Homo sapiens: one gene and its partners. The gene in region 3 interacts genetically with the main gene of each other region. Each region holds a gene or a part of one and is shown on either strand. Other genes may lie near its edges.

Region 1 (4,093 bases), on a different chromosome or scaffold from region 3:
CCCGGAGCGTCCCCGGCGCGGTCGCCGGCGCTGTCCCTGCGCGGTCGCGGGCCCGGCCCGGGCGGCGGCCTCATGACAGCCCCGCAGGCGCAGCAGTGCAGCAGGAGCCCGCCGAGCAGCAGGAAGCCGCCGCGCCAGCCGAAGCGCTCCAGCAGCTGCTGGCCGAGCGGCGACAGCGCGGACAGGAACACGGGGCTGCCCGCCGCCGCCAGCCCGTTGGCCAGAGGCCGCCGCCGCTCGAAGTACAGCCCCAGCATGATGAGCGACGGCTGGAAGTTGAGGGCCAGGCCCAGGCCTGCGGGCGAGGCGGTGCTGTGCCGGGGTCCCCGGAGAGCCCCTCCCTGGCCCCCACAGGAGGGAGGGGCCAGGCCCGGGAACCCAGCAGATCCGGGAACCCAGCCGAGGGACTTCGAAGACTGTCCCTCATAGGGAAACCGAGGACAGATCTTGCAGCAAGAACCCCCGACCCCCAACCCAGCGGAGAGGAGACCAGGGGGCCCTCACCTGTGAGCACCCCAGCGGTCAGGTAGAGCTCCAGGAGGCGCGTGGCAAAGGAAGCTAGGATCATGCCCGCGGAAGCCAGCAGCCCACCCGCCAGCATCACCGGGCGACAGCCAAAGCGGGTCACGAGGATGCTGGACACGGGGCCTGTGGGCAGGGCAGGGTCACCACCCGGGTCCCGGGATGGCTTGAGTCCTCTAAGGAATAAGGTCACCTCCGGCTCAGGGACACAGAGAGGAGGGCAGTGTCTGGCCAAGGTCACACAGCTTGGAGGGGACAGGCCAAAGAGACAGCATCCTGCGAGGGCAAGGCCCAGAGCACCCCATCCTGCGAACCCAAACCCCAAGCGGAGCGGGGGCTTCCGCACCCCTTTAACCTTCACAGCCTCCAAGTCCCGCCCTGGCACAGACTGGGATTCCTCCGCAGCCCCGCCTCCCAGGATGGGAACTCCAGCAAGCCCCCACCTACAGGTCAGGGCTGCGGGGAGGGGGAGTGCTTCTGTGGCTCTCAGCTTTCCTGCCTCTACAATGGGCGGGTGTGGTCTTAGAAGGGGCCCTCTGAGCTCGCAGGGCAGCCCCCTGGGCCGGCCCCGCCTCTGGCCGCTGTCTCCCTCCCGCCCTCTCTTCCCCTCTTTCTGGTGCCAGGGTTCCCACAGGCAGGAAGGGACTTCGGGGGCCACCCCGAGGGTCAGGGGGATGCTCAGGGGCTCGGGTGTCTCCTGGTTCCGGATCCCAGGGGTCCCGGGGAGGCGGAGGGCCGGGCGGGGACACTGACCCGTGCCGTAGAGCATGGCTAGCATGATGGAGGACACCCAGGCCGTGTCGCTGTAGCCGGCGTCGAAGTCGCGCATGAGCGCGCGGAAGAAGACGCTCACGGCTTTGGGGAAGCCGTAGGCGAAGCCGGTGACCACAAAGCAGGCGCCCAGCACCACCCAGCCCCAGCCGCCGTCTGGGGGGCCCTCGCCCCGCCGGGGGCCGCCAGCGCCCATCGCTGCCTCTGTTGGGAGGGGGCGGGGACAAGAGGGAGGGGCTGGGCCAGCAGCCTAGAGAAGGAGGGGGATGGAGACGAAGCATGGGGAAACTGAGGCACAGGGCTACCCACGTGAGGGTGGCTCAGGTCTGGGAACCAAAAGGGGAAACGGAGGTAGGACTCTCACCCCAAGTCTCCTTCTCCTGCAAAGGGCGCTGAAGGACGAGGGGAGGACGACGGGTCCCACCTGACTCTGCACCTCTGCAGGCTCCCTCTGAAGGACAACTGCTGGCCCCTCAGGGCCTCAGGTGGAAGGCGTCGGGAAGTGGAGCAGGTATGTGCCTGGAGGTGGGCGTCCAGCACCAAAGTCGCCCCGTACGCGTGAGGGTCTCGGGACAACAGAACAAACAGCAGAGGGGCAGATGCCGGCTGCAAAGGGCCGCTGTGCGTGATTTTCCTCTTTAGCCTTCCGCCATGTTCCTAATGTTTCTCAGTGATCACAAATGACTATTGTCATTAGAACATTAAGGGGACAAAAGCCACTTTCAACAGATATCAGCCAGGGGAGCTGAGTTCCCATGCATCTCAGCTCAGCCATGGATTCCCTCCCTGACTTGGGCCGGTCGCCTCCCCTCTCCCAACCTCCCTTTCCTCCGATGTAAGATGGGTGATTGATCACCCCGAGGCCAGCTGGGAATCTTGCGGGAGAGGAGTCAGGTCTCTGGCTTCTGCCAGACAGGTAGGAACCTTAGCAGCACTGAGAGAGTGGCCTTCTGCCCTCCAAACCTCAAACCCTCTATATGAAAAGAATGGCTCCAAAGCCTGTCTCATTCCTGGGGCTCCACCCGGGGCCCTCACAGCAGTTACAAGCGCCCCCATAACAGATGAGGAGGGTGTACTCAGAGACAGGTGCACCAGGAGCCGGGGGCTGGGGATAGCCTCCTGCCCTCCTGCCTGGAGTGTCCCTCCTGGCACTGGGCAGTGCCACCACCCCCAGGGTATCCGGGACTCTGCCCCTCCTCCACTAGGACCAGGTTGTGGCTTTTCCTGCCTGTTGTCCTCTTGTCACAGGGGCAGCCACTTGAAGGTGGAGACAGGAGGGTGATCCCAGGCAGCCCTCACATCACACTCACCTGAGCCTGCCTCGTGGGTTTGGGGGTCCAGCCTCACATCTCCTGAGGCCTGCAGGGAGGGGCCGCCGCCGCAGCTCCCGGTGAAGCTTACCCGGATGGGGGCTGCCAGACACCCCAGCTTCCCACCAGCCTGGGCTGAGCCTCTGGCCGACTCCCGCCTGACGCTCCCTGCCCCAGGCCTGGAGCTTAGAGTGTGTGCCCCCACCACACCTCACCCCTGCTAAGAGGCTTTTGTCCAGGAGGGGAGAAGAGACTGGGAGCCCCAGGCCAGGCTGGGCCTCGGCGGTGGGCTCCCTGTCCCAAGCCAGTCCAGGAGGGAGGAAGAGAATCCCTGTGCCTCCTGGAGCCTGGGGTGGTAGACACAGAGACCTTGCCCAGGGGGTCCTAGTCTGGTGCTGGGGGCACAGCCCTGCCCTGAAGAGACCCCAACGGTTCTAATCACCTCAGTGCCTCATCTGCCCCCGCCCCAACCCCCCGCCCCAGGCCACATTCCAGGAGGGGCTGGCAGCTTTCTCTAGAATGAAGCTAATCCACGCCTGTGCCTGGGAATGTGGGGGGGGGAGGGGCCAAAACAAAGGGTGCTGTGTCCAGGCCGCCTGAGGGCAGCTTGCTGGTGGTCCCAGCCCTTGGCCACTGCCACCTCTCCCCTGACCCGAGCAGCCGCTACTTCCTAGGAAACCCACAGGTCGAAATGAGAGCAGGTGGAGATGGGGGCTGCAGCGCGAGGGCTTTGGGGCAGCCCTAAAGAGTTCTCCAAACAAACAAACAAGGGGCTGGGAGTGAGATGGCTTCCCGGGGAACAGCCAGGACCTCAGTACCCCCTAGACCCCATTCTCCAATGGGGGAGTCTCTATCCCTCACCCCCTGCCCTGTCCCCCAAATAAGACACCACCAGTCCTGCTGCCGCATCACTTTGCGTCCACTTCCTTTATTTCTCATCATTTACAAAAGATGTACAGAGAGGGCATGTGTTGGGCACGGAGCAGGTACAAGGGGCTCCTCCCCACGGGGGCAGAAAAGGGGGAAAGAGGTTAGGGGGCAAGAGGTGGGCCCCCCAGGGAGAGTCCTGGAGCCCCTGGAGGGGGAGAAATTGTCCTGTCCCCCCATTCCGCCTGCTTTACTTTGAAGGTCTCGGACCCCAAGCCAGTGCTTTGGAGCTGCTCAGGCTGCCGGGGTGGTCTGGGGAGGGCAGCCACCCCCCGTCTCAGGGACCCGCTTCTTGGATCTGCTGCTGTTGCTGCTGTCGCTGCCATTGCCAGCTCTGAACAGCCCCTGGGCAGGTGCACTGTGGGGTACGACCTCGGACCCCGCCTCAGCGGATGAGGGGTGCTGAGCGGTCATTGGTGATGGTGGGACGAAGCTTGACAGTGGCAAAAGGATTTGTGCCCCTGTAGGAGGAGAGAGAGAATGGGGTGAGAAGGGCAGATGATCCCCACCTGGCCATGGCTCAGGAAGGCAGCTGGGCAACTGAGCTGGGTCCTGCCTCCTGC
Region 2 (3,159 bases), on a different chromosome or scaffold from region 3:
TACTCTGGTGAGTCACCACTTCAGGGCTTTACTCCGTAACAGATTTTGTTGGCATAGCTCTGGGGTGGGCAGTTTTTTGAAAATGGGCTCAACCAGAAAAGCCCAAGTTCATGCAGCTGTGGCAGAGTTACAGTTCTGTGGTTTCATGTTAGTTACCTTATAGTTACTGTGTAATTAGTGCCACTTAATGTATGTTACCAAAAATAAATATATCTACCCCAGACTAGATGTAGTATTTTTTGTATAATTGGATTTCCTAATACTGTCATCCTCAAAGAAAGTGTATTGGTTTTTTAAAAAAGAAAGTGTATTTGGAAATAAAGTCAGATGGAAAATTCATTTTTTAAATTCCCGTTTTGTCACTTTTTCTGATAAAAGATGGCCATATTACCCCTTTTCGGCCCCATGTATCTCAGTACCCCATGGAGCTGGGCTAAGTAAATAGGAATTGGTTTCACGCCTGAGGCAATTAGACACTTTGGAAGATGGCATAACCTGTCTCACCTGGACTTAAGCATCTGGCTCTAATTCACAGTGCTCTTTTCTCCTCACTGTATCCAGGTTCCCTCCCAGAGGAGCCACCAGTTCTCATGGGTGGCACTCAGTCTCTCTTCTCTCCAGCTGACTAAACTTTTTTTCTGTACCAGTTAATTTTTCCAACTACTAATAGAATAAAGGCAGTTTTCTAAACTTCCTGTATCCTGTTGTTTGTGTTGCTCTCTCCAGGGCTGGGGGTAGGAGGATGCAAGGACTTCCTGGCCTAGCTCACCCTGGAGAGGTTTGTTGAGTGCAAAGGACTAGCTTGTGCCCCACCTCCCACCCACCCAGCAGCTAATCTGGTCCCTCCCAACAACATGGAAATGATTACCCTGTACCGCATTCTGGTTCAGATTTGGGGGTAGGGTGAATGCAGCCTGAGGAGGCCAGGGAGGGAGGACTCCGGCAGCGTTTCCTTGGCCTCGGCGAGCTACTGGGCTCCACTTAAGGAGGCTGGGGCAGAGCTTCCAGGACTCTGCCCGGTTAGAAAACCCGCACGAGGGCGGTGCCGCTTTGGAGACAGGGAGGAGGGAGACCGGAAGCCTAGATCCCTCTGGCTGTCCCCTGCACTGCCGGTAACATGGCACAGGAGAGGAGGGCTGTTTGTGCACGGGCAGCTCCTGCAGCTGCTGCCGTCGCCCACCAGCCTCCTATGCCAAACCCCACATCCTAACTCAGGAACCTCTGAGAAAAAACGGAGCCCTCGAGGGCCCCAGCCCTTGGAAGGGTAACCTGGACCGCTGCCGCCTGGTTGCCTGGGCCAGACCAGACATGCCTGCTGCTCCTTCCGGCTTAGGAGGAGCACGCGTCCCGCTCGGGCGCACTCTCCAGCCTTTTCCTGGCTGAGGAGGGGCCGAGCCCTCCGGGTAGGGCGGGGGCCGGATGAGGCGGGACCCTCAGGCCCGGAAAACTGCCTGTGCCACGTGACCCGCCGCCGGCCAGTTAAAAGGAGGCGCCTGCTGGCCTCCCCTTACAGTGCTTGTTCGGGGCGCTCCGCTGGCTTCTTGGACAATTGCGCCATGTGTGCTGCTCGGCTAGCGGCGGCGGCGGCGGCGGCCCAGTCGGTGTATGCCTTCTCGGCGCGCCCGCTGGCCGGCGGGGAGCCTGTGAGCCTGGGCTCCCTGCGGGGCAAGGTACTACTTATCGAGAATGTGGCGTCCCTCTGAGGCACCACGGTCCGGGACTACACCCAGATGAACGAGCTGCAGCGGCGCCTCGGACCCCGGGGCCTGGTGGTGCTCGGCTTCCCGTGCAACCAGTTTGGGCATCAGGTGCGCCGGGCGGAGCGGGGCGGGGCGGGGGCGGACGTGCAGTAGTGGCTGGGGGCGCCGGCGGTGTGCTGGTGGGTGCCGTCGGCTCCATGCGCGGAGAGTCTGGCTACTCTCTCGTTTCCTTTCTGTTGCTCGTAGCTGCTGAAATTCCTCTCCGCCCTTGGGATTGCGCATGGAGGGCAAAATCCCGGTGACTCATAGAAAATCTCCCTTGTTTGTGGTTAGAACGTTTCTCTCCTCCTCTTGACCCCGGGTTCTAGCTGCCCTTCTCTCCTGTAGGAGAACGCCAAGAACGAAGAGATTCTGAATTCCCTCAAGTACGTCCGGCCTGGTGGTGGGTTCGAGCCCAACTTCATGCTCTTCGAGAAGTGCGAGGTGAACGGTGCGGGGGCGCACCCTCTCTTCGCCTTCCTGCGGGAGGCCCTGCCAGCTCCCAGCGACGACGCCACCGCGCTTATGACCGACCCCAAGCTCATCACCTGGTCTCCGGTGTGTCGCAACGATGTTGCCTGGAACTTTGAGAAGTTCCTGGTGGGCCCTGACGGTGTGCCCCTACGCAGGTACAGCCGCCGCTTCCAGACCATTGACATCGAGCCTGACATCGAAGCCCTGCTGTCTCAAGGGCCCAGCTGTGCCTAGGGCGCCCCTCCTACCCCGGCTGCTTGGCAGTTGCAGTGCTGCTGTCTCGGGGGGGTTTTCATCTATGAGGGTGTTTCCTCTAAACCTACGAGGGAGGAACACCTGATCTTACAGAAAATACCACCTCGAGATGGGTGCTGGTCCTGTTGATCCCAGTCTCTGCCAGACCAAGGCGAGTTTCCCCACTAATAAAGTGCCGGGTGTCAGCAGAACTGTGTGTATGTCCTGTGTCATTGTCATTTGGGAATTCTTTTTCTTTTCTTTTTTTTTTTTTTTTTTTGAGACGGAGTTTTTTGCTCTATTGCCCAGGCTGGAGTGCAGTGGCGCAATCTAGGCTCACTGCAAGCTCCGCCTCCCGGGTTCACGCCATTCTCCTGCCTCAACCTCCTGAGTAGCTGGGACTACAGGTGCCTGCCACCACGCCCGGCTAATTTTTTGTATTTTTAGTAGAGACAGGGTTTCACCGTGTTAGCCAGGATGGTATCGATCTCCTGACCTCGTGATCCACCCGCCTCGGCCTCCCAAAGTGCTGGGATTACAGGTATGAGCCACCGCACCCGGCCTGGCGATACTTTTTCTAACCTCATTGTCATAGTGGTGGGAACTTAATCCTCCTTCCCTTATCCTAGCCAAGTCTGAACTTTCTGTCCTTTTGTCTGCAGCGTGTAGGATCCACTCTTTCCTTTGTGGGAAGTCTGGCTCCTGGCCTGCA
Region 3 (3,500 bases):
CCAAGGCGGGCAGATCACGTGAGGTTGGGAGTTCGAGACCAGCCTGATCAACATGGAGAAACCCCGTCTCTACTGAAAAAAATACAAAATTAGCTGGACGTAGTGGTACGTGCCTGTAATTCCAGCTACTCGGGAGGCTGAGGCAGGAGAATCGCTTGAACCTGGGAGGTGGAGGTTGCAGTGAGCCAAGATCGTACCATTGCACTCCAGCCTCGGCAACAAGAGCGAAACTCCGTCTCAAAAAAAAAAAAATTTTTTTTTGTCTTAGGTCTCTCTCAGTATTTAGGTTTCCCCATCTTCTTTGTGTTTGTTTGTTTGTTTGTTTTTGTTTTTTGAGATGGAGTCTCACACTGTCACCCAGGCTGGAGTGCAGTGGCGTGATCTTGGCTCACTGCAAGCTCCACCTCCTGAGTTCAAGCAATTCTCCTGCCTCAGTCTCCCAAGTAGCTGGGATTACAGGCACCCACCACCATGCCCAGCTAATTTTTTGTATTTTTAGTAGAGGCAGGGTTTCACTATGTTGGCCAGGCTGGTCTCAAACTCCTGATCTCGTGATCTGCCCACCTCGGCCTCCCAAAGCGCTGGGATTACAGGCGTGAGCCACCACACCTGGCCTGATTTCCTCATCTTCTAAAAAAAAATTTTTTGGCCCAGGCGTGGTGGCTCACGCCTGTAATCCCAGCACTTTGGGAGGCAGGTGGATCACCTGAGGTCAGGAGTTTGAGACCAGCCTAGCCAACATGGTGAAAACACATCTCTAATAAAAATACGAAAATTAGCTGGGTGTGGTGGCGGGTGCCTATAATCCCAGCTACTCAGGAGGCTGAGGCAAGAGAATTGCTTGAATCCAGGAGGTGGAGGTTGCAGTGAGCTGAGATCACACCATTGCAATGCAGCCTGGGCAACAAGAGCAAAACTCAATAAATAAATAAGAAAGATTTTTTTTTTTTGCCATTTATTTGTCAAAGAAACCAGCTCAGTTGTCCTACAGAATTTTTCACATTTAGGAGTTGGCTGATTGGGTGGAGATTGACACATCCTCTCTGCCCATATTTCTTGTAAACTGATAGATCTAGAGGCGGAATCAGCTTCAGGTGCCAAGAAGACTTGACAGTGGGTGCAAGTGCTTCTGGCCACATCACATCAGGATGCATGGAACATCTAATCTGGTCATTTTTCTTGTTAGTGATAAGATTGACCAGTGGGTTCAGGTGATGTCAGCCTGAACCTTTCATATAAAGTTTCTCATGAGCTTTGTGTCTAGTGTTTTTAGCAACCATTGGTGGTCTTGCCTGTTTATGAACATCATAAAAGGGGTATCAAAGTATGTTTATCTTCTGGTACTTGCTTTTTGTTTTTTAACTTAATATCACATTACCAAGATCTGTGCACATTGCTGTCTGTAACTTTTTCACTGCTGTGTAATATTCCATGCACCCTCTCTTTATGTGGCCCTTTGTCTCCTCTGCTACCCACACTTATCCCCAGCAGCCATCCGTGGGTAGTGGCGGGGGGCAATGGTGGTGGTGGTTTTCTTTACTCACCTCATTGTCTGAGTCCTGGGGGTTGGATATGTCTGTTCTGCCTCTCTCCCAGTCTGAAGTTGAAGCTCTAACTGAACAACTAAGTGAAGAGGAGGAGGAGGAAGAGGAGGAAGAAGAAGAAGAGGAAGAGGAGGAGGAAGAGGAAGAAGAAGAGGAAGATGAGGAGTCAGGGAATCAGTCAGATAGGGTAAGAGACGGAGGCTGATATCTCCAGAGGAGTGGGAGACTATGGGGCTGGAGGTCTGGTCCTGAAGGTGTTGGGGGGGCCCCTGGGGGTGAGGGTTCCTAACTCCTCCTCCTCCCCCTTCCCAGAGTGGTTCCAGTGGCCGGCGCAAGGCCAAGAAGAAATGGCGAAAAGACAGCCCATGGGTGAAGCCGTCTCGGAAACGGCGCAAGCGGGAGCCTCCGCGGGCCAAGGAGCCACGAGGTGAGGAGGCTCTGCTGCTTTTGGGTGCCCTCCAGCCCCCGCCCGGCCCCCCAGAGTGTGTGCACGCACACACACGCTCTCGCATGTCCACCTGCATGTACCCACGCGTCCAGGCACCTGTGAGCTCGCACTCTCACTCTCTCTGTCTCTGTGTCAGGAGTGAATGGTGTGGGCTCCTCAGGCCCCAGTGAGTACATGGAGGTCCCTCTGGGGTCCCTGGAGCTGCCCAGCGAGGGGACCCTCTCCCCCAACCACGCTGGTAATTGCCAATTGCCGGGACAGGGAGCCACTAGGGGGCGACCTCAGGGCAGGAGGGAAAGGGAAGGAGGGGAACCACGCCAGAGCCGGGGTGTCCATGGCCAGGCTTTAGGGGTTCTGGGGCATGGCGGGGTGGGGTAGGGAGGGAGTGAGAGGACCCGCCAGGGGTCCCAGTAGGTGAGGTGCAGAGCCTCCCTCAGCTCCTCTTTTCCTCCATCCAAGGGGTGTCCAATGACACATCTTCGCTGGAGACAGAGCGAGGGTTTGAGGAGTTGCCCCTGTGCAGCTGCCGCATGGAGGCACCCAAGATTGACCGCATCAGCGAGAGGGCGGGGCACAAGTGCATGGCCACTGAGAGTGTGGACGGAGAGGTGGGGCCGTGGGCTGGTGGGAGAGGTGCCAGGGCGTCCAGTCCCCGGCCCCAGCCTCACGCTCTCTTCTCACCCATCCTCACTGCGCACAGCTGTCAGGCTGCAATGCCGCCATCCTCAAGCGGGAGACCATGAGGCCATCCAGCCGTGTGGCCCTGATGGTGCTCTGTGAGACCCACCGCGCCCGCATGGTCAAACACCACTGCTGCCCGGGCTGCGGCTACTTCTGCACGGCGGTGAGTGACCAGTGGGGCAGACAGGTAGCATGCCCTGTGGCAGAGGGGGCCCCAGTAACCTGACCATGTCGTTTCCCTGCTCCCAGGGCACCTTCCTGGAGTGCCACCCTGACTTCCGTGTGGCCCACCGCTTCCACAAGGCCTGTGTGTCTCAGCTGAATGGGATGGTCTTCTGTCCCCACTGTGGGGAGGATGCTTCTGAAGCTCAAGAGGTGACCATCCCCCGGGGTGACGGGGTGACCCCACCGGCCGGCACTGCAGCTCCTGCACCCCCACCCCTGTCCCAGGATGTCCCCGGGAGAGCAGACACTTCTCAGCCCAGGTACTGGCCTCCCCCTTCTGTACTGTCTGTTCCCTCCCCCACCCCTATTGCTCCTGGACATGAGCTCCTTCTTCCACAGTGCCCGGATGCGAGGGCATGGGGAACCCCGGCGCCCGCCCTGCGATCCCCTGGCTGACACCATTGACAGCTCAGGGCCCTCCCTGACCCTGCCCAATGGGGGCTGCCTTTCAGCCGTGGGGCTGCCACTGGGGCCAGGCCGGGAGGCCCTGGAAAAGGCCCTGGTCATCCAGGAGTCAGAGAGGTGAGTGGGGAGTTGCTCAGGCACAGCAACTGGGGCTGAGGCCAGAGGAGTGGTGTCGAGGCTGATGCTGGAATCTGAGG

What was found. Genes that interact genetically often act in the same process or in processes that back each other up.
Region 1: changes in EHMT2 (region 3) and SLC16A8 together harm fitness less than expected from each alone (positive genetic interaction), as found in Homo sapiens cells (one large-scale study listed by BioGRID).
Region 2: changes in EHMT2 (region 3) and GPX1 together harm fitness more than expected from each alone (negative genetic interaction), as found in Homo sapiens cells (one large-scale study listed by BioGRID).

Annotation. Positions count from the first base shown.
Region 1 is NC_000022.11:38,081,385-38,085,477, forward strand, and holds the start of SLC16A8 (monocarboxylate transporter 3), read right to left. Parts: upstream 2,801-4,093; 5' UTR 2,604-2,800; intron 1,978-2,603; 5' UTR 1,658-1,977; intron 1,654-1,657; exon of another isoform or gene 1,498-1,653; 5' UTR 1,490-1,497; coding exon 1,276-1,489; intron 649-1,275; coding exon 505-648; intron 296-504; coding exon 1-295. Other genes in the region: BAIAP2L2 (BAR/IMD domain-containing adapter protein 2-like 2), read right to left, coding at 3,916-3,991.
Region 2 is NC_000003.12:49,356,676-49,359,834, reverse strand, and holds GPX1 (glutathione peroxidase 1), read left to right. Parts: upstream 1-1,481; 5' UTR 1,482-1,556; coding exon 1,557-1,670; coding exon of another isoform or gene 1,671-1,853; exon of another isoform or gene 1,854-1,946; coding exon of another isoform or gene 1,947-2,009; exon of another isoform or gene 2,010-2,068; coding exon of another isoform or gene 2,069-2,087; coding exon 2,088-2,447; 3' UTR 2,448-2,659; downstream 2,660-3,159.
Region 3 is NC_000006.12:31,887,699-31,891,198, reverse strand, and holds part of EHMT2 (histone-lysine N-methyltransferase EHMT2), read left to right. Parts: intron 1-1,596; coding exon 1,597-1,731; intron 1,732-1,856; coding exon 1,857-1,971; intron 1,972-2,128; coding exon 2,129-2,230; intron 2,231-2,451; coding exon 2,452-2,600; intron 2,601-2,692; coding exon 2,693-2,836; intron 2,837-2,922; coding exon 2,923-3,158; intron 3,159-3,237; coding exon 3,238-3,420; intron 3,421-3,500. UniProt on the Homo sapiens protein: Histone methyltransferase that specifically mono- and dimethylates 'Lys-9' of histone H3 (H3K9me1 and H3K9me2, respectively) in euchromatin.